Linked DNA regions of Homo sapiens. The protein of the gene in region 1 interacts with the protein of each later gene in a pairwise test. Each region holds a gene or a part of one and is shown in the gene's direction. Other genes may lie near its edges. The genes, in order: PEX7, CFAP298, ACAT1 and ATL1.

Evidence for each region.
Region 2: the proteins of PEX7 (region 1) and CFAP298 interact in binary tests that used the Homo sapiens proteins (3 or more experiments, as listed by UniProt).
Region 3: the proteins of PEX7 (region 1) and ACAT1 interact in a two-hybrid assay, tested with the Homo sapiens proteins (one study listed by BioGRID).
Region 4: the proteins of PEX7 (region 1) and ATL1 interact in binary tests that used the Homo sapiens proteins (3 or more experiments, as listed by UniProt).

Annotation. Positions count from the first base shown.
Region 1 is NC_000006.12:136,909,589-136,914,465, forward strand, and holds the end of PEX7 (peroxisomal biogenesis factor 7), read left to right. Parts: intron 1-3,869; coding exon 3,870-3,938; 3' UTR 3,939-4,346; downstream 4,347-4,877. UniProt on the Homo sapiens protein: Receptor required for the peroxisomal import of proteins containing a C-terminal PTS2-type peroxisomal targeting signal. Specifically binds to cargo proteins containing a PTS2 peroxisomal targeting signal in the cytosol.
Region 2 is NC_000021.9:32,609,375-32,616,731, reverse strand, and holds the start of CFAP298 (cilia- and flagella-associated protein 298), read left to right. Parts: upstream 1-4,354; 5' UTR 4,355-4,488; coding exon 4,489-4,627; intron 4,628-6,726; coding exon 6,727-6,894; intron 6,895-7,357. Other genes in the region: CFAP298-TCP10L (uncharacterized protein LOC110091775), read left to right, coding at 4,489-4,627, 6,727-6,894. UniProt on the Homo sapiens protein: Plays a role in motile cilium function, possibly by acting on outer dynein arm assembly. Seems to be important for initiation rather than maintenance of cilium motility.
Region 3 is NC_000011.10:108,131,539-108,138,572, forward strand, and holds part of ACAT1 (acetyl-CoA acetyltransferase, mitochondrial isoform b precursor), read left to right. Parts: intron 1-368; coding exon 369-416; intron 417-2,281; coding exon 2,282-2,399; intron 2,400-2,682; coding exon 2,683-2,778; intron 2,779-3,603; coding exon 3,604-3,704; intron 3,705-7,034. UniProt on the Homo sapiens protein: This is one of the enzymes that catalyzes the last step of the mitochondrial beta-oxidation pathway, an aerobic process breaking down fatty acids into acetyl-CoA.
Region 4 is NC_000014.9:50,626,111-50,633,144, forward strand, and holds the end of ATL1 (atlastin-1), read left to right. Parts: intron 1-1,920; coding exon 1,921-2,352; intron 2,353-3,884; coding exon 3,885-3,899; intron 3,900-6,118; coding exon 6,119-6,229; 3' UTR 6,230-6,935; downstream 6,936-7,034.

The DNA of each region.
Region 1 (4,877 bases):
TTTTTCTTACCTTATTATTATTTTCTTTATTGTTAGCTTGCTTAAATTTGTAGAACCAGATAGGGCTTAATTAACAAATAGAGGAATACTATTTTCATCAATTTGAATTAATCTATTCATAATTCTATATCATTGCAGTTTTAGATCTATCTTAATCCAATTAAGTATAGATTTATGAACATTTGCTGAATCAGTGGCCTTGACATTTGGTAGTTATTATAAGTCCTGAATAAATAAGAAGCTGGATTGGAGAGTGCCGAATAAGGTTTCAGAAACATAATTTATAGATACCTTGCACTAGAAACCTAAGTCTTATTTCTCTGATTCTCTTCTCTCCAGTAGCGGATGCTTAACATGTGGGAAGGCCCAGCACTTGAAAAAAATAGGCATAGATGAGACAGGGGTAATTTAACATAATGATCTTTGTGTCCTATGGTATAAAAACTGAAAACTGCAAGATTAGGCAAATAATGGTTTTCAGTTTGCCTTTTCTATGAGGCACTGTTTTAGTGGATACATTCAACAGGTTTAGGTTCTGGCTGTAGCTCTGCTACTCTATTGTGAACATGAGGACAGAGTTAACCTCTGAAATTGTAATCTATGAAATTAATTTGTTGAGCCAATATTCATTGAGTTATGTTCTAATAAGACATGGTCCATGCCCTCAAAGAGCTGAAGACAACTCTTTGTCTTCAGTTGGGAAAATAAGTACAATCAAGTATTATGGGTACAATGAATGACTTCATAGAGGAGATGATACCTAAACTGATTTTTTAAAAAAGAGACATCTCTGGCAGAGCAAGGCAAAGGGGACAGAGGAGCAGACAGAAAGGGAGGGAGAAGAGGAGTTATTAAAGGGAAGCGATCAGTAAAGGAACAAGAGCGAAGAGGCATAAGCAGCATGCTTGGATTTGAGGTGTGAGCCCGGTGCAATGAGAAATGAAATGGGAACAACCAGATCTTGAAGAGTGAGGTTTTTAAATTTAAAAGTTTGACTAAAAAGTCTATAATGCTCTCTGTAGCTTGGATTCTGATCTCAGAATATTGGTAGTGAATGATTGGCTATCACTATTCAAAATTAGTGATAGCCAAGAAATTACATTAGTCAAAACGAGGTTTCTCTTGTGTAATTTTCAGCCTTTGTAATAAGCATGAAAGGCTGGGAAATGGAGTGCAAATACTTTTGGTCAAAAGCACTCTCTTGCTACTTCATCTTTCATTTTACTGCCTACCTTGTTTCTTTTCTTCTTTTTTTTAAATTGTGGAAAATTTTGAAAACATACAAAGTAACAGAATCAGATAACGAACTTCATTACTTAGCTTGAACAACTATCAACATTCTTATTTTATTTATTCCTGTACTCTCACACATCGTTTAGTTATCGCTAACATTATTTTTACTATTTTTAGGTATAATTCACATATATTGAAATTTACAAATCTTAGATATACATTTTTGACAAATAGATACGTCTGTGAAATTCACATCATCCCAGTTATTGGAAACTGGGAAAGCCCCCAGTTTCCTTTTTACCCCTTTCCAATCTCCCCTATCCCCACCCTTCCCTCCAGGTGAGAAGAGTAACATTGTTCTGACTTTTTGTTTGTTTGTTTGTTTACCTTAGATGAGTTTTGCCTGTCTTAGAATTCTATAAGGAACTCTTCTGTATGTCCTCACTTGTTTCTGGCCTCTTACCTGTGAGCTTCACCCGTGGTACTGAGCCTGTTAGCAATTCCTCCCTTTGTTTTGCTGAGCACATGCTGTTGTATGAATTTACTACAATTTGTTACCGATTCTTTTGTTAGTGGGTATTTTGGTTGTTTTCCTTTTTTTTTAGACAGAGTCTCACTCTGTTGCCTAGGCTGGAGTGCAGTGGCATGATCTCGGCTCACTGCAACCTCTGCCTCCCAGGTTGAAGCGATTCTCCCACCTCAGCCTCCCTAGTAGCTGGGATTACAGGTGCACACCACCACACCTGGCTCATTTTATGTATTTTAGGTAGAGGTGGGGTTTCACCATGGTGCCCAGGCTGGTCTCAAACTCCTGACCTGAGGTGATCCATCTGCCTCAGCCTCCTAAAATGCTGGGATTACAGGTATGAACCACTTTGCCCAGCCTTGTTTTCGATTTTTTGCTATCGTGAATGAAGTTGCTATGAACATTCGTGTCTACATTGTTTTGCAAACATATGTTTTCATTTTTCTTGGACAAATATCTGGGAGTGGAATTACTGGGTCAAAAGATAGGTATGTGTTTAACTTGGTAAGAAACGGCCAAATTGTTTTCCAAAATGGTGGTACCATATACCTTCCCTACCAGCAATGTATGTGATCACAGCTGTTCCACATCCCTGCTGACATTTGGTGTTGTCAATCTTTAATTTTAGCCATAATGTGAATATATGGTGGTATCTCATTGTCATTTTTATTTGCATTTCCCTAATCCCTAATGATGTTGAGCACTTTTTTATGTGCTTACTTTTGCCCATCATTTTTCATTAGATTGCCTTTTATTATTGAGTTGTATTGGTTCTTTATGTATTCTTGATACAAGTTGTCAGGTGTATATTTTATGAATATTTTATATAACTGTGTCTTGCCTGTTCATTTTCTTAACAGTGTCTTTTGATGAGCAAAAGTTTTATTTTTGATTGAGTGTAACTTACCAAATTTTTGATTATTACTTTTTGTATCCCTAAGAAATCTTTACTTACCTCTGTATTGAGAATATATTTTCCTTTTTTTTTTTCTGAAAGTGTTATACAGTTTGCTTTTATATTTAGGTCTGTGGTGCATCTCAAATTCATTTTTATGTGCAAAGTTGGGGTCAGGATTCACTTTTTTCCCTATGGATATTCAGTTGTTCTGCCACCATTTATTGAAAAGACTATTTTTTCCTTTTGCTCTTTAATTGTTTTGGTACCTTTGTTGAAAGCCATTTGTCCAAGTGTGGGGCCTATTTCTGAACTCTGTTCTCTTCCTTTGATCTACTTGTCTTTATCCTAATCCTGCACAGTCTTGATTACAGTAGTTTCGTGCTGAGTCTGGAAGTCAGCTAGTGTTAAGTAGTGCAGCTTTGTTTCATTTCAAGATTCTTTTGGCTAAGTCCTGGCATTTCCACATAAATTTTAAAAATTGCCTCATCCATTTCTATTAAAAAACGAGTATATAGAAACACAGTGGTTTTCATATATTAATTTTATACCCGGAGACATTGCTATATTCACTAAGTTTTTAATGCATAGTTCCTGAACACCCTGGACTTTCTTCCCTTCATGTTTTCCTATGGCTCTGTAGATGTGAATGTCCTTGTCTTTTATGTCTGCCTCCTACAGAGGTCCAGTGGGAATGCCATGGCATTGTGAAGTTGTCTGACACTGTCCCAGCTGGAATCATATAGTCCCCCTAAGAGTCTCTGTTAGTGCACCTTCCACACTCAGTCTTGAATGAGCCATTTTTTGAAGGCAAGAGCTTTACTTTATCTTCCTCTCCAGTCCCACAATATTGAGCACAGCATCTTGTTCACAGTCTGGAACGTATCTTTTCGACATTTATATCAGATAGTAGGGAATTATGTAGCTGTTGGGTGAAGTGAAGGTGGGGGACATTCTTATAGGAAACCTCAGTCAATTGAAATATACCAATTGGAATATACTCAATCAATGGGAATCAGTTGGAATACCCTGAGGTATATCCTAAAAAGGGAATATGGACCTTTTATCAAAAACGTAGCCCTATGTTTTCCCTATTCAAAAATATGTTTACTAGTGGATGATTTACGACACTCTAAATGACTTGAGTTTTTGCTGTCAATTTTGAATTTTTGTATGTCTAAATACGTTTCTTCTTACTTCATTTTTGTTTTCTAGGTGGCTGACTGTTCTTGGGATGAAACAATAAAGATCTATGACCCTGCTTGTCTTACTATTCCTGCTTGAGATACACTACTTTGGTCAGAAACAGAGGATGTTGGCTGAAGAACTGCCTAACAGCAAATAAATTAACTATGGAAAACATAGACATTATGCTTTTATATGCTATTCAGATTTCAAATCTTTCCAATTTACCCTGGAATCAGTTTTGAGGGAGCTGATAAAGACTTTAGCTGACTCGTTAAGCCTGATACATAAGCCATATTTAAAATTCTAAGAAATAATTAATGTTATGATATATCTTGTAGTATCTATTAAAATGTCTCTGGGTCATAAAATGGATTAAAATATGGGAGATCAGTAGGTTATACTTATATAGATAGTGATATATTTCATTTTTAATTTGTCATTTTTGATGTAAAATATAATCACTGCTGTGATAAATAAACTATCTATTGATCATTTATCATTTTATAACTTCCCCCAAAAGACTGCTCTTTCTAATACATTGTATATGTGAATATAGTACTATATATAATATAGATATATCTGTGGTTCAGTAACAGGACACTAGAATATATTTAATTTATTCTTTTATTTAGTAGCTGTTTATTGAGCATCTACTCAGTGCTTGACACATAGACTCAATGAGATTCTGTCAAGGACTGGTGCCATGTTTTTAAGAACATGGAATGCTGTGAGCTAAGAGCTTACTTTTTTTTTTTTCTTAGAATTTATTCACACATTTTTAGATATTGTACCCATGACTCTATAATTTTGTCTTCCCACTTCTCTAATATCAAAATTTTTTTAAACTGTCAATTAAACAAAAAGTTTTAGGTCCTACTAAGGCTTCTAGCTTTTGCCCTTGAAACCAGGCCTAAGTACAGCTATACGTGCTCCTTGCCACCTCCCTAAGTTTTCTTGAAAAAGCTCTAGGTGCAGATGAACTGAAAAAAACAAAAAAAGTTGGTTAAAGAGGAAAAATCAGCAAAACAAACTACT
Region 2 (7,357 bases), on another chromosome or scaffold:
ATTTTGGCTGTTGTGAATAATGCTGCTATGAATATGGGTGTACAAATATCTCTTCCACTCCTGGCTTCTAATTCTTTTTGGTAGGTACCCACAAATGCAACTGCAGGAACATCTGATAATTCTGTTTCTAATTTTTCCAGTACACGCCATACTATTTTCACTGTTGCTTCACGGTTTTACATTCCCTGCAATCATATTCGAGCATTCCTACTTCCCTCTAGTCTCACCAATGCTTGTTTATCATATCCATCCTAATGTGTGGTATCACATTATTGGTTTGATTTGCGCTTCCCTATGATGAGTGATTTTGAACATCATCTTAGATGCTTATTGGCCATTGCTGTATCTTCTTTAGGGACACGTCTACTCGAGTCTTCTGACCATTGTCAATGGGATGCTTTGGGTTTCTTGTTGCTTAGTTCTAGCTGTTCTTTATACATGATGGATATCAGCCTCTTTTCAGATATATGATTTGCAAATATTTTTCCGAATCCATGGGTTATCTTTTCACTCAGTTCACAGTGTTTTTTGATGCACAAAAGTGTCTGTCATTTAGATGTAATCCAAGGAATCTAATTTTCTTTCGTTGCCTATGCTTTTGGTGTCATATCCCAGAAAGCATTGCCCAATCTGATGTCATGAAAGTGTGGCCAATGTTTTCTTTGAGGCATATTATACTTTTAGCACTTGGGGTTAGGTCTTTGATCCAGTTTGTGTTAATTTTTGCACCTGGTGTGACATAGGGTCCACCTTCATTCTTCTGCATGTGGAAATCAAGTTTCTCCAACACCATTTCTTGAAAAGGCTGCTTTTCCACCAATGAGCTTTCTTAGCACTCATGTTAAAAATCATTTGAACACATAGGTGAGAAGTTATTTCTGGGCTCAAAAACAAACAAACCACAACAAACAACAGATAAGGATACAGCATGGGCCGGGCGTGGTCGCTCACGCCTGTAATCCCAGCACTTTGGGAGGCCAAGGCGGGCGGATCACCTGAAGTCAGGAGATCAAGACCAGCCTGACCGACAGGGAGAAACCCCCGTCTCTACTAAAAATACAACATTAGCTGGGCATGCTGGCGCATGCCTGTAATCCCAGCTACTCAGGAGGTGGAGGCAGGAGAATCACTTGAACCCAGGAGGCAGAGGTTGTGGTGAGCCAAGATTGCACTGTTACACTCCAGTCTGGGCAAGAAGAGCAAAACTCCATCTCAAAACAAAAAACAAAAAACCAGCATGATTTCAAGAGCAGAAGACAAGAGCTTAAAAACCAGCATAATGAGAAAGTTAGGAAGCTTCTTACCAAAGCATCTGGAAATATGCAAGAAATTCTTGTGAACTAAAATTTTCATACTGTACTATCAAACACTAGAACTCACTTACTCCATCTTTCTGTATTTTGGGACCCAATTATCCACTTCTCCTCATTCCCCATCCACCCCTTTTCTTCCTAGCGTCTGCTAACCCCCTTTATACTCTCCACCTTCCTGAGATTCCTTTTGTTTGTAGGTGTGTGATGGAGTCTCTTTCCATTGCCCAGATTGGAGCATACAGGCACAGTCCAGGCTCACTGCAACCTCCACCTCCCGAGTTCAAGCGCTTCTTGGGCCTCAGCCTTCCGAGTAGCTGAGACTACAGGCACGCATCACCACGCCTGGCTAATTGTTTGTGTTTTTAGTAGAGACGGGGTTTCACCATGTTAGCCAGGCAGCTCTCAAACTCCTGGCCTCAAGTAATCCGTGCAACTCGGCCTCCCAAAGTGCTGGGATTACAGGCCTGAGCCACCTGGCCAAGATTTTCTTTTTTGTTCCTACGTATAAGTGAGGACATGTAATATTTGTCATTCTGTGCCTGGCTTATTTCACTTAACATACAGACCTGCAATCTCATCCATTTTTTCTGCAGCGGAGAGGATTTTATTCCTTTTTAGGCTGAATAATACTTCATTGTGTGTGTATACCGCAGTTTCTTAATTGAAACAAATTTCTAAAAAGCAAATATTTAAAAAATGTTTCGGAATGTGAAACTTTAGGGATATTGTGCCCATTTTATTCTTTTCTATTTCCCATTTTATGTATATGCAAGTGTATAATAAAGCAGCAATCAATGTGTGTATAAATCTGTAACTTCAACAAATGTAAAATGAAAATGCTAAGTGGTGGCTGGGCGCGATCGCTCACGCCTGTAATCTCAGCACTTTGGGAGGCTGAATCAGGCGGATCACCTGAGGTCGGGAGTTCAAGACCAGCCTGACCAATATGGAGAAACACTGTCTCTACTAAAAATACAAAAAAAAAAAAAAAAAAAAAAAATTGCCGGGCATGGTAGCGCATGCCTGTAATCCCAGCTACTTGGAAGGCTGAAACAGGAGAATCGCTTGAATACGGGAGGCAGAGGCTGCAGTGAGCCGAGATCATGCCATTACACTCCAGCCTGGGCAGCAAGAGTGAAACTCTGTTAAAAAAAAAAAAAAAAAAAAAAGAAAAGAAAAAAAGAGAAAATATTACTTCCATTATCGCAGGGGGTGCTCACCCCTGATGATATTGTTTTCTAATATCCAGGGAAGGAGAGTATGATATTACTCCCAATATCGCAGGGGGTGTACACTTTTTTGTGATATTGTGTCTAATATCCGGGGAAACAGAGGATGATATTACTCCCAATATCGCAGAGGGTGGACACCCCCCTGGGATATTGTTCCTAGTATCCCAACGGGGAGAGGATGATATTACTCCCCATATCGAAGGAAATGTACACCACCCCTGTGATATTGTTCCTGATATCCAGAGAGGAAAAGAATGATATTACTCCCAACAGCGAAGGAAATGTATACCCGCGCTGTGATATTTTTCCCAGTATCCGGGGGGGAGAGGATCATATTACTTCCAATATCGCAGGGTGTGTACACCCCCTCTGTTATCTTGTTGCTAACATCCAGGTTTGGGGAGGAAAACATTACTCCCAATATCACAGGGGGAGTACACCCCTCCGTGACCTTGTTAGTAATTTCCTGGGTGGAGAGGATGACATTACTCTCAATATCGCAGGGGTGTACACCCCACTGTGATATTTTTCTAAATATTCAGGGCGGGAGACGATAATATTACTCCCAATATCGCAGAAGGTGTACATTCCCTGACCATCAAACATAAGAAGTCCATCAACCTGTTTAGTTTTCTTTAGATCTGTATTTGAATTTGTGTTGTCCGTTTGTTTATTTATTATTTTTGAGACACAGTCTCACTCTGTCGCCAAGGCTGGAGGGTAGTGGCGCGATCTAGGCTCACTGCAACCTCCGCCTCCCGGGTTCAAGCAATTCTCCCACCTCAGGCTCCCTAGTAGCTGGAATTACTGGCACGCGCCACTACGTTCGGCTAATTTTTGTATTTTTAGTAGAGAAGGGGTTTCACCATGTTGGCCAGGCTGCTTTCGAACTCCTGACCTCAGGTGATCCGCCCTCCTCGGCCTCCCTAAGTGTTGGGATTACACGCGTGAGCCACCGCTCCTGGCCTGTCCATTTATTTTTGTTTTCTTTTTGTCACACTAAAATATAAGCTCCATGAGAGCAGTGACTCTGGATCTGTGGGGCCCGGAATAAACAGCGACTGACGCCGACTGCCTTCAGCAAGAGTCCGCTGGAGGATGGCTGGATATTTCTGGGAGGGTCGCTCTGGCAGGGGCCGCTGGAGCTACCCCAGCAACGCCATCCAAATCAACCTGAACGAAGAAGTGCGGACACTCGCCCTGGCCCCTCCGTCCTGAAAAGCTGACCCGCGCAAACAGCAGCGAACAGCAAGACTCAGTTCTGGGTCGCTGCCGCCGAACTTTCCCAGGCCGGAAACAGCGTGGAAACGTTGCCGGAAGTGGAGACTGAAAGCGGCGGAAGGGACGCTGGAATGTGGAGCGGTTGTGGGGCGGCAGCTGCGGAACTGCGCGATTGTGGTTCCCGCCGTATTTCCCGTTCCCCATCTAGTAACTCCCATCTCAGCCCACGTATCTCCCTGAGTGGAAATCTCGGGCCCCAGACCAGTCGATTGGGAGGTCCGCCCTCCCCTTCAGCGACTTGGTCTGTGTTTTGGCAGTTGCCGCGACAACAGTCACTTCCGGGAAGGGGCTCTGCGAATCTCCTTCCGTCGGTCCGCTCAGAATCAGCTGTCCTCTCAGACTGTGTGGGTGGTTTCCCCGGCCGCAGCTCCGTACGGGCTTGGATTGCTGGGCCTCGGTGCACCCCAGCCTCCCCCACTCGGGTTCTGAGCTTGAGCTGGCGGCTCTTTAACTCTGCTTCACTGTTGCTCTTGGCAACATCCACTTCCGGGAGCGAGTGCCGTTTCCCCCGCTCACCGCGGGCTAGGGAGCGTGGGATTCCGGACTGTGAGCGGCTGTTAGTGCGTCGCAGCTGCTGGCGATCCGGCGACCCTCGGCCGGCAGGACCCGCGGGCCACGCAGCCGGGGCCTTCTCAACGCCTCAGTACCTCGGCGGGACCGCCATGGTTCTGCTGCACGTGAAGCGGGGCGACGAGAGCCAGTTCCTGCTGCAGGCGCCTGGGAGTACCGAGCTGGAGGAGCTCACGGTGCAGGTGGCCCGGGTCTATAATGGGCGGCTCAAGGTGCAGCGCCTCTGCTCAGGTGCGGCTCGCGGGTGGGCCCATCCCGGACAGATCGAGAGACCGGCGTGGGATGGAGAAAGAGGGGCAGGGTGGGCCGAGGGGTCAGGTTTGTGAAGATTATTGAAGAGATTTGCAGCAGCCGGGGTTGAAACGGGACACTAGGGTTAACCGGAGATGAATAAGGAACCGGAGAAGATCCGGCCTGTCTGACACCCCGGGCTGGGAGGTGGGCCCAGGTGCCTCTCGGAGCCAGGATTTGGGGTGCTGCGAATAAGTGGAAATGGGCTGGGGAGGGAGGAGGGAGCCGAAAGGCCGGGCTGAACAGCAGACTTAGTGCAATTAATCACGTGTGAGGGGTGAGATGAGAACTAGGTGGGCTTTTAAAAGCTGAATTTACTATTTTTAGTCGCCCAATGTAAAGCAGCGAGCCACCTGGCTTTGGGACGGCCCCTTACAGTTGAGGAAGCCTTGGTGATCTTTCCCCGCCCTGGAAACGGCCTGTTGCGTTGCGGCGCCGTCTCCCTACCCCGCGCAGGTTCCAGGGCACCCGCTTTGCCGCAGAACTTTCCGGCGGTGGAAGGGCCCCCATCTGTGCTGTCCATTGGGCAGCTGCCGGCCACTTGTGGCCGTAGAGCATTTGGAATGTGGCTAGTGCGGCCAGGCAACCGAATTTTACATTTGCATTTTAATTAATTAAATATATATAAATATAAATAAATACCATATATATAGTATATATGAATATAAATAAATTATATATATGTATATATAAATATAAATAAATTATATATATATATATATATATGGTATGTGTGTGTGTGAGAGACAGGGTCTTACTGTTGCCCAGGCTGGAGTGCAGTGGCGCGATCTCTGCTCACTGCAACCTTCGCCTCCCGGGTTCAAGCTATTCTCCTGCCTCAGCCTCCCAAGTATCTGAGATTACAGGCGCCCACCACCACGCCCAGCTAATATTTGTATCTTTAGTGGACACGGGGTTTCATCATGTTGGCCAGGCTGGTCTCGAACGCCTGACCTCAGGTGATCCGCCTGCCTCCGCCTCCCAAAGTGCTAGGATTACAAGTGTGATCCATCGCGTCTGGGTCATTTTAATTTAAATAAATTTAAATCGCCAAGTGGAGCGAGTAGCTGCCGCATTAGACAGCATAGTTTTTGAACTTGACGGGATGATACTTCCTGATGTGGTCTAGGATATTACTGTTTATATAACTATCGTGTATATATAGAATATACAAACGTAACTATTTGCAATAAATAGTATATTCATTTATGTGATTTATTAAATTGCATGAATATGTGATTTATTATGAAATGTATTGATTACATTATATGAATATGTGAGTTTTGCACCGTGGAGAAATTCCTGAGGGTCATGGTTCTTTTCATGAAACTTATGTGTAGTTTCTTAATTGAGGTTCCAACACAAACTCAATATTAAATGTTATTTTTAAGTTAAAGCATTTGAGGAGAAAAGGAATTCATCTTCTTTTCCTATAACGTTATAAATTGGAAATGTGCTGAATGCTAAGAGTCACATTAGTGAACTGAAAATTCATGTATTTATTCTGCACCAGTGCTCAGCCTTCAGAAGACAAGGATGGGGCCGGGCGTGGTGGCTCACACGGGTAATCCTGACACTTTGAGAGGCTGAGGCGGGCGGATCACTTGAGCCTAGGAGTTCTAGACTAGCCTGGGCAACATGGTGAAACCCAGTCTCTACTAAAAATACAAAACGTGGTGACACATGCCTGTTGTCCCAGCTACTCGGGAGGCTGAGGCGTGAGAATCGCTTGAACCCGGGAGGCAATGCTGCAGTGAGCTGAGATCGCTGCAGTGAGCTGAGATCGCGCCACTGCACTCCTGCCTGGGTGACAGAGGGAGACCCTGTCTCAAAGAAAAAAAAGACAAGGATGAATAAGACCAGTACCATGCCCCCGTGTCAAAGGCCCAGGCCAGGTCTGGCACATAGCAAGTGGCATATAAATGTTTGTTCCATAAAATAGTGAGCCAGATGGGCAAGACCCCTGACTCTTTGGAGCTTACATTCCAATGGGGTATGAGGTGTTATGATTGTGATACTGTCTTTCACTTATTTTTAAGAAATGGAAGAATTAGCCGAACATGGCATATTTCTCCCTCCTAATATGCAAGGACTGACCGATGATCAGATTGAAGAATTGAAATTGAAGGATGAATGGGGTGAAAAATGCGTACCCAGCGGAGGTGCAGTGTTTAAAAAGGATGATATTGGACGAAGGAATGGGCAAGGTAAGTGAGGATTTCTCTTCTATGTGCATGCTTGATACAGGCATAAGTATGAAAACAGTTCCTTTTTTTTTTTTTGAGACGGATTCTTGCTCTAGCCCAGGCTGGAGTGCAGTGGCACAATCTCAGCTCACTGCCACCTCTGTCTTCCAGGTTCAAGCGATTCTCCTGCCTCCGCCTCTTGAGTAGCTGGGACTACAGGCATGTGCCACCACACCTGACTAATTTTTGTATTTTTAGTAGAGACGGGGTTTTGCCATGTTGGCCAGGCTGGTCTCGAACTCGTGACCTCAGATGATCTGCCGGTCTCGGCCTCCCAAAGTGCTGGGATTACAGGTGTGAGAAAGCAGTTCTTTACGTTTAAAAATTGACCTCGTCATTTCTCTACAGACTTACAAAATACTGTACTCTGTAGCTCCTTTGGTAAAACTCTAATCTAGGATGAATTAGGTAGATAAAGGAAGCT
Region 3 (7,034 bases), on another chromosome or scaffold:
ACTGGGTCTCACCACGTTGTCCAGGCTGGTCTTGAACTCCTGACCTCAGGTGATCCGTCCACCTTGGCCTCCCAAAATGCTAGGATTACAGGCATGAGCCACCACGCCTGGCCAAGACTTGGAAATTTTAAGATAGTAAACTTAAGAGTTAAAACGTACATTTCCAATGAATAGTTAATTAGAAAAGTTTATTATAAAGCAGTCATTTTTTTCTAATTGTTAAAAGTGATATATTCTGACCACAAAAAACTTGGAAATAAAAGCATAAGGATGCAGGAAGAAACCACTATAACCTTATCACTGAGAAATATAAAATGATATAGTTTAATATTTTTTACATTATAACATTATAAATATTTATATTACAGGAAATAAGATATGTGGAACGGAGTTATGTATCAAAACCCACTTTGAAGGTAAGTAATTTAAATTGTGCTTTAAAATTTCCAGAATTTAAAGGAAATGTCAATAAAAATGCATATACTTATGATTTGGATACATGTGAAAGTCAAAGCAGGATTATGTAACAGTTAGGAATAGCTAACTATTCAAATATTCAGTTAAAGTAGATGACTATAATAGAAAAACATGTCAGTTAGTCTCTGCCAATGTTTGTTGCTTCCTTATAGTCTGCTACAAAACAACATTCCCTCTAGAACTGGGCAGTGTTCTTCTTTTACTCACAGGGACTCGCATTGTATTGTGTGTGGTACAAGCAGAGACTGTATAGAAGATCCTAGAAGAGAGGGAGTGGACCAGTTGGGAATTAGACAAGGAGGGCCATTACAGCATCTCCTAGGACCTTCTGAAGAGTCTCTGTTTTGTAAGGGTCACTAAAGTGACTTAGTTAAGATCTTCTATCAAAATCTAAGCAACCATTCTGTTATTTATCTCTAAACTTAATAGGAGATTGTGGAAGACAAGTGTAAGGAGAGAACTGTCACAGTGCTGTTTTATAGTATTCAAGAGAGCTTTTATCTTCTTTTGCTTAAAGTTCATATTATTGTCTTACTGTTTAAGAAATTATGGCTCTGGGCCGGGTGCGGTGGCTCACACCTGTAATCCCAGCACTTTGGGAGGCCGAGGCAGGTGGATCACGAGGTCAGGAGATCGAGACCATCCTGGCTAACACGGTGAAACCCCATCTCCACTAAAAATACAAAAAATTAGGTGGGCATGGTGGCAGGCACCTGTAGTCCCAGCTACTCGGGAGGCTGAGGCAGGAGAATGGCGTGAATCCGGGAGGCGGAGCTTGCAGTGAGTTGAGATCACGTGCCTGCACTCTAGCCTGGGCAACAGAGCAAAACTCCATCTCAAAAAAAAAAAAAAAAAAAAAAAAAAAAGAAAAAAGAAATTATGGCTCTGGCTGGGCACAGTGGTTCATGCCTGTGATCCCAGCACTTTGGGAGGCCAAAGTGCGTGGATCACCTGAGGTTAGGAGTTCAAGACCAGCCTGGCCAACATGGCAAAACCCCATCTCTATTAAAAATACAAAAATTAGCCGGGTGTGGTTGCAGATGCCTGTAATCCCAACTACTCAGGAGGCTGAGGCAGGAGAATCACTTGAACCCGGGAGGCAGAGGTTGCAGTCAGCCAAGATCATACCACTGCACTCCAGCCTGGGTGACACAGTGAGACTCCATCTCAAATTACATATAAAAAAAGAAATTCTGGCCCTGGCTCTGTCCTAGTTAAGTGGTATTGCCCCACCTAGGATACAGGTCTTGATTCCTAGCCAGAGTTCCTTTCAGTAAGGGACCCTCTTAGAGTTGTTTATTATGCAGTTAACAAGAGTAAAGTGGCTGAGTGTGGTGGCTCATACCCTTAATCCTAGCACTTTGGTAGGCTGAGGCAGAAGGATTGCTTGAGCTGAGGAGTTTGAGCTGCAATGAGCTATGATTGTGCCACTGCATTCCAGCCTGGGCAGCTGAGCAAGACCCTGTCTCAAAAACAAAAATACAAAAACAAACAAAAAAACAAGGTACAGTGATCATTTCTTGAATTTTGACTGAGGAATAGAAAGGAAACTTAAGCTTCTGTCCTCAAACCTCCTGTAGAGAACTGGGAAGGATCTACATCTGTTTTAGAGTTGGTTTCTATAAGGTCTTAAATCATAAAGCACTAGCATTGAACTGATTATCTTGACAGCTGTTCAACTATTGAGATTAATTTTTGATGACTCATTCATAGAAGTGTTTTTTTGATAATATATTTATGTTTATTTAATGAAATACGATTTGGGTAAAATACCTATAATTTTTACCATCTTGTGTCTTGCCAGGAAGTGGTCATAGTAAGTGCTACAAGAACACCCATTGGATCTTTTTTAGGCAGCCTTTCCTTGCTGCCAGCCACTAAGCTTGGTTCCATTGCAATTCAGGGAGCCATTGAAAAGGCAGGTCAGTAGTTACTTGGCTTTTTGTGTTAAGGGAGCAAAAAGATTCCATGGAAAAGATATTTATTTTGCATTAACTATGTATGTAACACTTAGAAATAACTTAATGCCTACATTTCTGCTTTCCCTTGTAAAGAAGTCTTTGTACTATACAGTTTAGATTGAAACTCAAAACTGACAAAAAAAAGAAACCATTCCTATTGTGTAATGTCACCTACCTTATTAGGTAATCACTGATTATTAAATTGAATTAAATGCCTTTTTGACTTTTTTTTTTTTTAATAAAGGGATTCCAAAAGAAGAAGTGAAAGAAGCATACATGGGTAATGTTCTACAAGGAGGTGAAGGACAAGCTCCTACAAGGCAGGCAGTATTGGGTGCAGGTACCTGGAAGACTTTTTTGCTTTTATACTTAAAATGTGTAAAAGGGGCCGGGTGCGGTGGCTCATGCCTGTAATCCCAGCACTTTGGGAGGCCGAGGCAGGCGGATCACGAGGTCAAGAGATGGAGACCATCCTGGCCAACATGGTGAAACCCCGTCTCTACTAAAAATACAAAAATTAGCCAGGTGTGGTGGTGCACTAATCCCAGCTACTTGGGAGGCTGAGGCAGGAGCATCGCTTGAACCCAGGAGGCGGAGGTTGCAGTGAGCCAAGATTGCACCATTGCACTCCAACCTGGGCGACAGAGTGAGATTCTGTCTGAAAGAAAAAAAAAAAAAAAAAAAAAAGGCTGGGCATGGTAGCTCACGCCTGTAATCCTAGCACTTTGGGAGGCCGAGGCGGGTGGATCACGAGGTCAGGAGATTGAGACCATCCTGGCTAACACAGCGAAACCCTGTCTCTACTAAAAATACAAAAAATTAGTTGGGCGTGGTGGCCAGCACCTGTAGTCCCAGCTACTCCGGAGGCTGAGGCAGGAGAATGGCGTGAACCCAGGAGGTGGAGCTTGCAGTGAGCCCAGATCGCGCCACTGCACGCCAGCTTGGGGGACAGAGTGAGACTCCGTCTCAAAAAAAAAAAAAAAAAAAAAAAAGTATAAAATGGCAAAATGAAGGTTATTTAAGCTTAAATGAAATATTAAATGCATGATATAATTTGTAGTTATATTGGCAGAAGAAATGTTGTAGTTTATAGTAACATGCTCTATTAAGTTCTGCAGTTGTGTTTGAGTATCGGTTTTTCAAAAGTGACTTATATTGGTTTTAGGCTTACCTATTTCTACTCCATGTACCACCATAAACAAAGTTTGTGCTTCAGGAATGAAAGCCATCATGATGGCCTCTCAAAGTCTTATGTGTGGACATCAGGTAAGAAACACCGTCCTTCCCATTTATTAATCAGAGTAATACCTAGGGCTAAAAGACACAAAAATCTAGGCATATTCATATTTTAGAAATGAGATTCTTTCTCATAAGTTAGTATGTTTTCTCACATGCTCAAGAGTGTCTGGATTTGCTAAGTCCATTTGAAGTATGGTCAAAATGATAGCGTAGGCTGGGTATCATGTCTGTAAGCACTTTGGAAGGTCGAGGCAGGAGGATCCCAGGAGTTTGAGACCAGCGTAGGCAACATAGCAAGCGAGACTCTGCTCTTTGAAAAAAAAAAAAGCCTAAGTGTCTTGTGTTACAAAGTTGTTTTTAGGCCCAGGCACAGTGGCTCACTCCTATAATCCCAGCACTTTGGGAGGCTGAGGCTGGGGGCAGATCACATGGTGAAACCCCGTCTCTACTAAAAATACAAAAATTAGCTGGGCGTGGTGGCAGGTGCCTGTAATTCCAGCTACTCGGGAAGCTGAGGCACAAGAGTCACTTGCATCTGGGAGGCAGAGATTGCAGTGAGCTGAGATTGTACCACTGCACTCCAACCTGGGAGATAGAGCAAGACTCTCAAAAAAAAAAAATTGTTTTTAGTCAAGGCATTTGGGTCTTTCTCTGAGGCTGGGTGACTAAAAATTCATAAATACTGTATTTGCCAGAATAAGACAGGTTTTCATTATAAAGGAGAACACGGTGCTTAACCCTGGGAATCAAATCATTGCTTGAGCCCAGGCTTGATGACTAATTTGTAGTCATTAAGTTAAGTTCTACAGGCTTTCTAATTAGCCTTGCTGATCTATATCTTGTCTTTACTTGAGATCAAGCAAGAGACAGGCTCCTTAGCAAAAATATGCTGTCATGTCAGGAGGTGAGACCTGGACACACAGAAGAATCAAGATTCTCTCAGATCTGAGCCCTTCATTTTTCAGATGAAGATTTTTTTCAGTGTGTCTGAGACAGCCACAGAGTTACAGGGCTGAGCATCTGCCATGTGACAGTCATTGGAAATAGAGTGGTGAACAAAACATTTAAAAAAATCTGTACATGTGCAGGTCTCTGTTGGAAAAATGCCTAAAAGAAATGCTGAGTCAGGATTTGAACATTTTGGTATTTGCAAATGCTTTCCATAAAAGTTGTACCAGTTAGACTTTCCAAAAATTGTGTGACTTGTCTGGATCTGCACCACCACTGGGTGGTACCAAACCCTTGTCAAACTGGTAGGTGAAAAACGGTCACCAGATTTAGTTTCAGAACTGTTTGTCATGGAAAGTTTTGTCTTAATTGAAGTATTGTGGTTCTCTAGCAAATGCCATTTGTACTATATTGAAATACTTTCATTTAATATTATTTTATTCATTTGTGGATATATACAGTGACTTATAGGCATTCTTGGAAGTGCTTTGTTTTGAATATTTATGACCTTAGAAAACAGTCAGTTTTACTTTATAATGAAGAATTGATACCTTATTTTCTGTCACTTATTATTGCCATCACCCCCAGTAAAAAGTACAAGTGAATAAAACTTAGATGAGAACTGATTAAGAATTTCTCTATTTCGGAATAGGCAAAATATTTATGTTTCTTTGGTATAGAGCTTGCTTGTCTGTATGCCTGATTAAAGACTGTAAGAAGATATTATTGGCTTTATGTTTACATTAATGTTTTATATTAAACTGTTTTTAACTAGCCCTTATAATGCAAGTGATTTTTTTTTGTTGACTTGTAAAGTAGTAACAAGTTGATTAATATTTATTAAACTTATATATGCCAGTTGCCAAGGATGTAAAAATATGACAGGGTGTCTGGCCTCAAAGGAGCATAGTCTAGTGGGAAGACTTGACATGTAAACATATAATAATATTAAAAGCATTGCATAGTAATTGGGGAACACAAAGGAGGAGAAACTGTTTCAAGAAAGGATAGAAATAAATGGTCAAGGCAGACATGAAGTAGTGTTCTGATTAGTTTTAAGAGAAATGTAGGTGTTTTACATGTTGGTGGATGGGGAAAGTGCAGAGGTATGTGTGTGAAATGTGCATGGTGTCTCTGGAGAGCTTTAACTAGTTCCATGTGACCTGAGGTATAGGTTAGGCTGTGAGACTGAAAAAGGGGAGAGAAGGGATACTGTAAAGGCTTTATATATTATGCTGAGTTATCTAAGGTGCGAAATGATCAGACTTACATTCTAGCCAAAATGAGTCAGATGAGTGTTGATGATGCTTTGGTGGAAAGGCTGCATGTCAGAAGATCAAGTGGAAAATTATCTCAGCTGTCCAGGAAGAGATGATGAGGATCTCAGTCAAGGAAGTATGATTATTTTCATGAACTGAGATTACTTCTAATCTTCTAGAGCACATTAAATTTTTAGCAGCATGAATGAAATGAAGGGTTAGAAGTTAAGAATTTCAGGCCAGTCATGGTGGCTCACACCTGTAATCCGAGCACTTTGGGAGGCTGAGGTGGGCGGATCGCTTGAGTCTGGGAGTTTGAGACCGGCCTGGGTGATATAGTGAAACCCCATCTCTACTAAAAATATTATACAAAAATTAGCTGGGTGTGATGGTGCATGCCTGTAGTCCCAGCTACTTGGGAGGCTGAGGTGGGAGGATCACTTGAGCCCAAAAGGCAGAGATTGCAGTGAGCTGAGATCGTGCCACTGCACTCCAGCCTGGGCAACAGCGAGACCTGTCTAAAAGAAAATTTAAGAATTTCAGAAGATGGTTTTACATGAAAGATTTCTGGTATTTTTTTTTTAAAGACAGAGTCTTGCTTTGTCACCCAGGCTGAAGTGCAGTGGTGCGATCTTGGCTCACTGCAAGCTCTGCCTCCCAGGTTCACGCCATTCTCTTGCCTCAGCCTCCCGAGTAGCTGGGACTACAGGCGTGTGCCACCAAACCCGGCTAATTTTTGTATTTTTAGTAGAGATGGGGTTTCACTGTTAGCCAGGATGGTCTCGATTTCCTGACCTCGTGATCAGCCCGCTTTGGCCTCCCAGAGTGCTGGGATTACAGGGGTGAGCCACCGTGCCCAGCCAGATTTCTGGTATTCTTATTAATGTCTGGTTGTGAACTTTTGAGACAGAGCCTTGCTGTCACCCAGGCTGGAGTGCAGTGGCACGATCTCAGCTCACTGCAATCTCCGCCTCTACTTTTTTTTTTTTTCTTTTGAGGAGTCTTGCTCTGCCCCCCAGGCTGGAGTGCAGTGGCACAATCTCAGCTCACAGCAACCTCTGCCTCCCAGGTTCAAGCAATCCTCCTGCCTTGGCCTCCCGAGTAGCTGGGATTAGAAGTGCCCACCACCACACCCAGCTAATTTTTGTAT
Region 4 (7,034 bases), on another chromosome or scaffold:
TGTATTTAAGGAAATTAATGTTTTCATGCCTGCTAACACAATATCCATTCTACAGCCCAGGATCAAGGAGTAATTTTGACTTTCAAAAGTTAATAAGAAATACATTTTGTAAGGCTATAGCTGCCATAGATAGTGATTCTTTTGATGGATCTGGGCAAAGTACATTGAAAACCTTCCAGGAGAAATTCACCATTCTGGATGCCATGAAGAGAATCTGTGGTTTATAGGAGGCAAAAATATCAACAAGAATGTGGAAAAAGTTGATACCAACCCTTCTGGATGACTTTGAGAGGGGTCCAAGACTTCAGTGGAGGAAGGAAGTGCATGTGTGGTGCAAACAGCAAGAGAACTTAAAAGTGGAGCCTGAAGATGTGACTCAATTTTGTATTCTCTTAACGGATAAGGAGTTGCTTCCTATGGATAAGCAAAGACAGTGGTTTCTGGAGATGGAATCTACTCCTAGCGAAGATGCTGTGAACAGTGTTGAAATGACAACAAAGGGTTTAGAATATTTTTTATTGGTACATAATAGATGTACATATTTTTGGAGTACATATGATAAATTGATACATCCATATAATGTGTAAAGATCAAATCAGGGAAAGTGTGGTATTTATCACCTTAATATTTCTTTATGCTAGGAACATTCGAATTATTCTCTTCTGGCCATTTTGAAATGTACAGTAGATTATTGCTAATTACAGTCACCCTACTGAGCTATTGAACACTGTCTTATTTCTTCTAACTGCTTTATTTGTACCCATTAATCAACCTCTCTTCATCCCCTTCCCCCTACTCTTTTCCTTTCCAGGGCTTTAAAATATGAAATAAAGTTAGTTGATAAAGCATTGGCAGGGTTAGAGAGGATTGACTCCAATTTTTAAAGAAGTTCTACTATGAGTAAAATGCTGTCAAATGGCATCCCAGGCTACAGAGAAATCTTTCATGAAAGGAAGTCTATCAATATGGCAAACTTTACTGTTGTCATATTTTAAGAAATTGCCACAGCCACCTCAACCTTCAGCAACACCACCCTAATCAGTCAGCAGCCATCGACATCGAGGCAAGAGCCTCCACCAGCAAAAAGATTGATGTGCTGAAGGCTCAGATGATCCTTAGCATTTTTTGCAATAAAGTGTTCTTAAATTATGTACATGGTTTTTAGATATGCTACTGCACACTTTACTAGACTGCTACATAATGTAAACATAACTTTTATATGAATTAGGAAATAAAAAAAATCATGTGACTTGCTTATTGCAGTGGTCTGGAACCAAACATGTATTATCTCTGAGGCATGCCTGTAACCAAAGTGAATGGTATGGTTAACTGAGATTACCCTTGTAACTTTTCAAAAAATTGAAAATGTTATTCAAGAACATTTAATATACTCCTAACTTAGTTTCTGGAAGAAAATACTCAATTGGCTCCATTCAAATAAAAATCAGTAAAACTGCTAAAGAATGTATTTCACAGTTTACTTTGAGAGCTTTATAGCATTGATCATTGTTTATTAAACCTCATTGGTTAACATGACTTCAGTGTAGTTAGATTTCCTAGAATTTGGATATACGTAGTTTTCTTAGATTTGGATTCATTCTGTGAATGAACTCAGTTTGCACTTCATGTTGTGTCACACGTCTTTTCATCTTGAAGGACTTGGATTAAGTGATAAATATTATTTTCCATGTCAAAAAGAGAAAAATTTAAAATGATTTTAAGCCACCTATAAAATACCAGTCCCATTTATAGTCATGCCTCGTGGATAGGGGGTGGAAAGATGTGGGCTGACAAAACATATATGCAGGCTCCTGATTATTAACGTATTCTAACAAACTCAACTAGCTAAGTGAAAAATTTTGATACAGTTGCCAATTTTACTCTGCATTGCATAAACAAATACTTCTCTATCTGATACAGATTTGTGGTGGTGACAAACCATTTCTGGCCCCAAATGACTTGCAGACCAAACACCTGCAACTTAAGGAAGAATCTGTGAAGCTATTCCGAGGGGTGAAGAAGATGGGTGGGGAAGAATTTAGCCGGCGTTACCTGCAGCAGTTGGAGAGTGAAATAGATGAACTTTACATCCAATATATCAAGCACAATGATAGCAAAAATATCTTCCATGCAGCTCGTACCCCAGCCACACTGTTTGTAGTCATCTTTATCACATATGTGATTGCTGGTGTGACTGGATTCATTGGTTTGGACATCATAGCTAGCCTATGCAATATGATAATGGGACTGACCCTTATCACCCTGTGCACTTGGGCATATATCCGGTACTCTGGAGAATACCGAGAGCTGGGAGCTGTAATAGACCAGGTGGCTGCAGCTCTGTGGGACCAGGTAAGAACACCTTTAATTCACAACTAAATTCAGCACACATTTGAATGTCATCCATGTGCCAGCCACTGCATTAGATGTTGGAAATACAGATCAACAGGAATTGGGCCCCAGTCATCAAGAATGTTATGACCTGCCCAGATACAAGCAACTAACTATATAATACTGTGTAAAATGTGAAGTCCTACACAACTATTTTCCAGTTAACATTTCAGCATTTAAAAAAATATACATCAGTTTAGTAGTATATATACTTTTTTTTCTTTTTTTGGGTAGGGGGGCAGTCTTGCTCTGTCATCTAGGCTGGAGTGCAGTGGCGTGATCTCAGCTCACTGCAACCTCCGCCTCCCAGGCTCAAGCAATTCTTGTGCCTCAGCCTCTCGAGTAGATGGGACTACAGGTGCATACCACCATCCCCAGCTAAGTTTTTGTATTTTTTGTAGAAACGGGGTTTCACCATGTTGGCCAGGCTGGTCTCAAACTCCTGACCTCAAGCAATCTGCGCGCCTCAGCCTTCCAAAGCGTTGGGATTATAGGCGTGAGCCACCCAGCCTACTTTTTATTATTCTAAAAATGTTATATCTATTAAAAGTTGTAAGAGACAACAGCTTTTATTTAGCTAATTATGACTTGTGTTAACATTATCTCATATTTACAACCTATGATTTGATTAGCATTAGCTTTGTTAGGAGCTATCTGAACCACTATCATAAGTTGTCATATCATTCTCTTTTTTAGTTAAAAACTTCCAAAAGCAGTATCAGATTACTTCAGATTGTCTCTGTACCTGTAGGCAGCAGGTAATAGCTACAATTCTTCCAGCATTAAGAACATACTTATGGCCAGGTGCGGTGGCTCACGCCTGTAATCTCAGCACTTTCCGAGGCCAAAGTGGGCGGATCATCTGAGGTCGGGAGTTTGAGACCAGCCTGGCCAACATGGAGAAACCCCGTCTCTACTAAAAATACAAAAATAGCCAGTCATAGTGGCGCATGCCTGTAATCCCAGCTACTCGGGAGGCTGAGGCAGGAGAATCGCTTGAACCCAGAAGGCGGAGGTTGCACTGAGCCGAGATGGCACCACAGCACTCCAGCCTGGGCAACAAGAGTGAAGCTCCATCTCCCAAAAAAAAAAAAAAAAACCCTACTTATATATACTTTATAACATAATTGTAACGTGCCTTTGAAGGATCTAGCTGAGATAAACTAGTGGTAGCACAATGGGAAATGAATGAAGTAAAAACTGGATCCTCTGAGCCACTTTCTGAAATAGTCCCTCAACCACAAAAGATTTAAGAGGGGTTGAGGTCAATGTCAAAACCCTCCTAGACTTATGTTATGCTAAAACCTATGAGGAATACAGAATTGAGTTCTTCAAAGATTCTGATAAAATATGTAATCTAAACTGAAAAATCTGCAGGAGTATCTGTTCTGAAATGCTCACAAATTAATATTGTAAGCAAAGTTGATTATAATGCTGTTAATAAAGCAGGATATATACTTTTCTTTTTTCTTTTTAATCTGCCTTTGCCACAGGGAAGTACAAATGAGGTAAGTTAAATTTTTTAAAATTCAGAGCTATGTATGTGTAAACATTATGATATTATTTTATAAACTGACTAAGCCATTAAAAGATGTCTTTATGTAGATTAGAACAATCTTTGGTGACTTCTAACATTTAAATTTGTAATTGTGAATTTTTAACATGGTCTTAAAATATTTAACTTTTTCTAGACATCATGTATGATTTGATCTACACACACACAAAAACTAAGAATTGAATATCATCAGTATTTGTTTCATGAATGTGTAGAAAACTTCAAAATTCTTAAGCTCTGAAATGGTGGACTCTGCTGTACTGCAGAGTAAAGCAAGCAGTTATGAAACCTGAGGAAATGTAACTACTGGAGGGTATTTATTTAAATGTAGCTACAACCTTTAGAAGTTGTTTTCAACTTTGGCTTTTGACTGACAGTAATACATACCACTTTAAGCAGGGCCCAGGCCAGTATGTATTCTTTCTTGGCAGACCTCAGGCCTGACCTGTAAATTAGTGTTCATTTCTCCTACCGCACATGTGCAACACTACATATCTCAGAAAAGACTCTAGGCATCCACGAAGGAATCATCTGTTACACTAAGAAAAATTACCACTCTGGAATCATTTAGGTCATTATCTTCAGGAAGCAAAGCTGATCTTGAACAACTATAGAGATAATTCTTTCCTCAGTTTCTACTGTGGCATATAATTGGATTATGTCCTCGAATCAAATACCATTTACTATTTACAAGTCAATAAGAAGTTATTTTATGCAAAATTCAGTAAGCAAGTTCATTAAAAAAGCAAAAGCAAATTTCAGCTTTGTAAATCAAAGCTTAAGAAAAAATATAAGAGAATTAGAATTAAATTGAATGCCTTAGAATCAGAATATAATGGAAAACAATACTATGTTGCACCAATATACATTCACAGATCTGAAGATGGTACCATACAGACGTAATGCCATAAGAAAATCAAGGCCAGGCGCGGTGGCTCACGCCTGTAATCCCAGCACTTTGGGAGACTGAGGTGGGCGGATCACGTTAGGTCAGGAGTTCGAGACCAGCCTGGCTAACATGGTGAGGCCCCATCTCTACTAAAAATACAAAAAATTAGCCAGGTGTGGTGGCAGGCACCTGTAGTCCCAGCCACTGGGGAGGCTGAGGCAAGAGAATAGCTTGAACCTGGGAGGAGGTTGCAGTGAGCCAAGATCGTGCCACCACTGCATTCCAGCCTGAGCGAGAGAGTGAGATTCCAACTCAAAAAGTAAAAAACAAAAACAAAAACAAAAAAAAACCAGATCCAAAGAAAGTAGGTATAGACTCACAAATGATAAAAATTAATGGAATTTCCTGGGAACAGATTACTATTTAAAGGATCTCAAGCTTTTATGCAGCTTTTAAAAATATTCAAAGACTCTTTACGAACTCCAGAACTAAATCAGACAAGTCATTTGTAACTGACTGTCAAGTATGTGAAAGTCAGAGGAGGGGATGAAATCTTAGACACTAGCTAACGGGGCCAGGAAACAAAGATATCTATGAACACTTATATAAAGCAATATACAATACACAGAGATTCCTATGATTCAAACATCATTAAAAACCCACAGAGAACAATAAGAGGTAGTTTTAAATGAGGAAAGCTTGCTGAGGTAATGTTTTTGAATAAGGTTTGTAAGATATTAGCTAAGTCACGGAAACAAGGCAAGAGCGTGTAAAGTGAAGGATCCTACTGTGCTGGGGGAAGGACACCATATGTGCTTAGCTGCATGACTGTATCAGTAAATGATGGAGAATAAAATTGGCCCCACTCAGGAAAACACTGGAAGCCCAGAAAGCAAGTAGCCTAGCTATGCATAATAGTTACTGCCAATCAGAAGTTATGAGGTCTTACAATTCATCTAAAACTGCTAATATTCACAATTTGAATTTTCAGCACACCCCTGGGGCAAAGTAGAAGCTCACTGCTCCAAGAGGTATGCAAGGTAAAAGGAAACACAGTTTGAGAATAAAACATTCACCACACAGGTCAACACACAAAAGTGTTAATGCACACATTGAGGAGTTGAAAATACTTTTGAATTTTAAGATAATAATTTATATATCGATTAAAAAAGATTTCAAATTCAACATGCTAAATTTTATACAGTACGATAAACTAAAAAGGAAAAAATTTTACATCTGTGTGTTTAATAAAATGTTTTATAATTTTGATGCTTTTATTCTAGGCTTTGTACAAGCTTTACAGTGCAGCAGCAACCCACAGACATCTGTATCATCAAGCTTTCCCTACACCAAAGTCGGAATCTACTGAACAATCAGAAAAGAAAAAAATGTAATGCAAATTTTAAGAAATACAGGTGCATGACCAATTGTCAATTAAATATTCAGTTTTATGTCTCCATGCAAACATTCAAAGTGCTTCCATCAGAACGGAGTAAAATACTAAACACCTCTGAAGACTGCAAACTGGATTAGTTCTTTTACTTCAGTGTTTAATAAGCAGATGTATGTATGCATGGTTATACTATTTTGTTAACATGTACAATTTCCTGATTTTTCTTCAAAAATGCTGTTATAAAGTATTTGTCTATTTATGATAACAGTACACGTGTTCTGCTTGAATTTACTAAATTCTACTACTGGGTTATAATTAAATCATGTGATATTCCACGTTTGGATATGCTCATTTAATTTCTACAGAAAAAATTTTAAATTATTTCACATTAGCCATTTGTTAAAACACAGCATCATAACTCAGCAGGCTGGATTTAATCTGTATCATCTTATATATATCACAATCTTATTTTTAAGCACATTTTAGAGTTCCTTAGTTGCTTTATCAAAAACCAGATATTGCTTTTACATGGTTTAATAGAATATAAACCTCTTGATAAAAAATGCACAAAAAATCACTTTGTATATGTGAGTTTCACTGCATTGTATATTTTTTCATTTGGTACACAAAGAATGTATTCTTCATAGGTTTATTCTTTTAATATGTGAACTATTATTAAAGTTTACTCTGGTTCCTAAGATTAAAAACAAATGCTTACTGAATTTGAAAATGAGAGGTGCTGATATAGAATGATGAAGGTTTATCTCTTTTTTTAGACTCAAGATGCATTTTATTTAATGTTGACA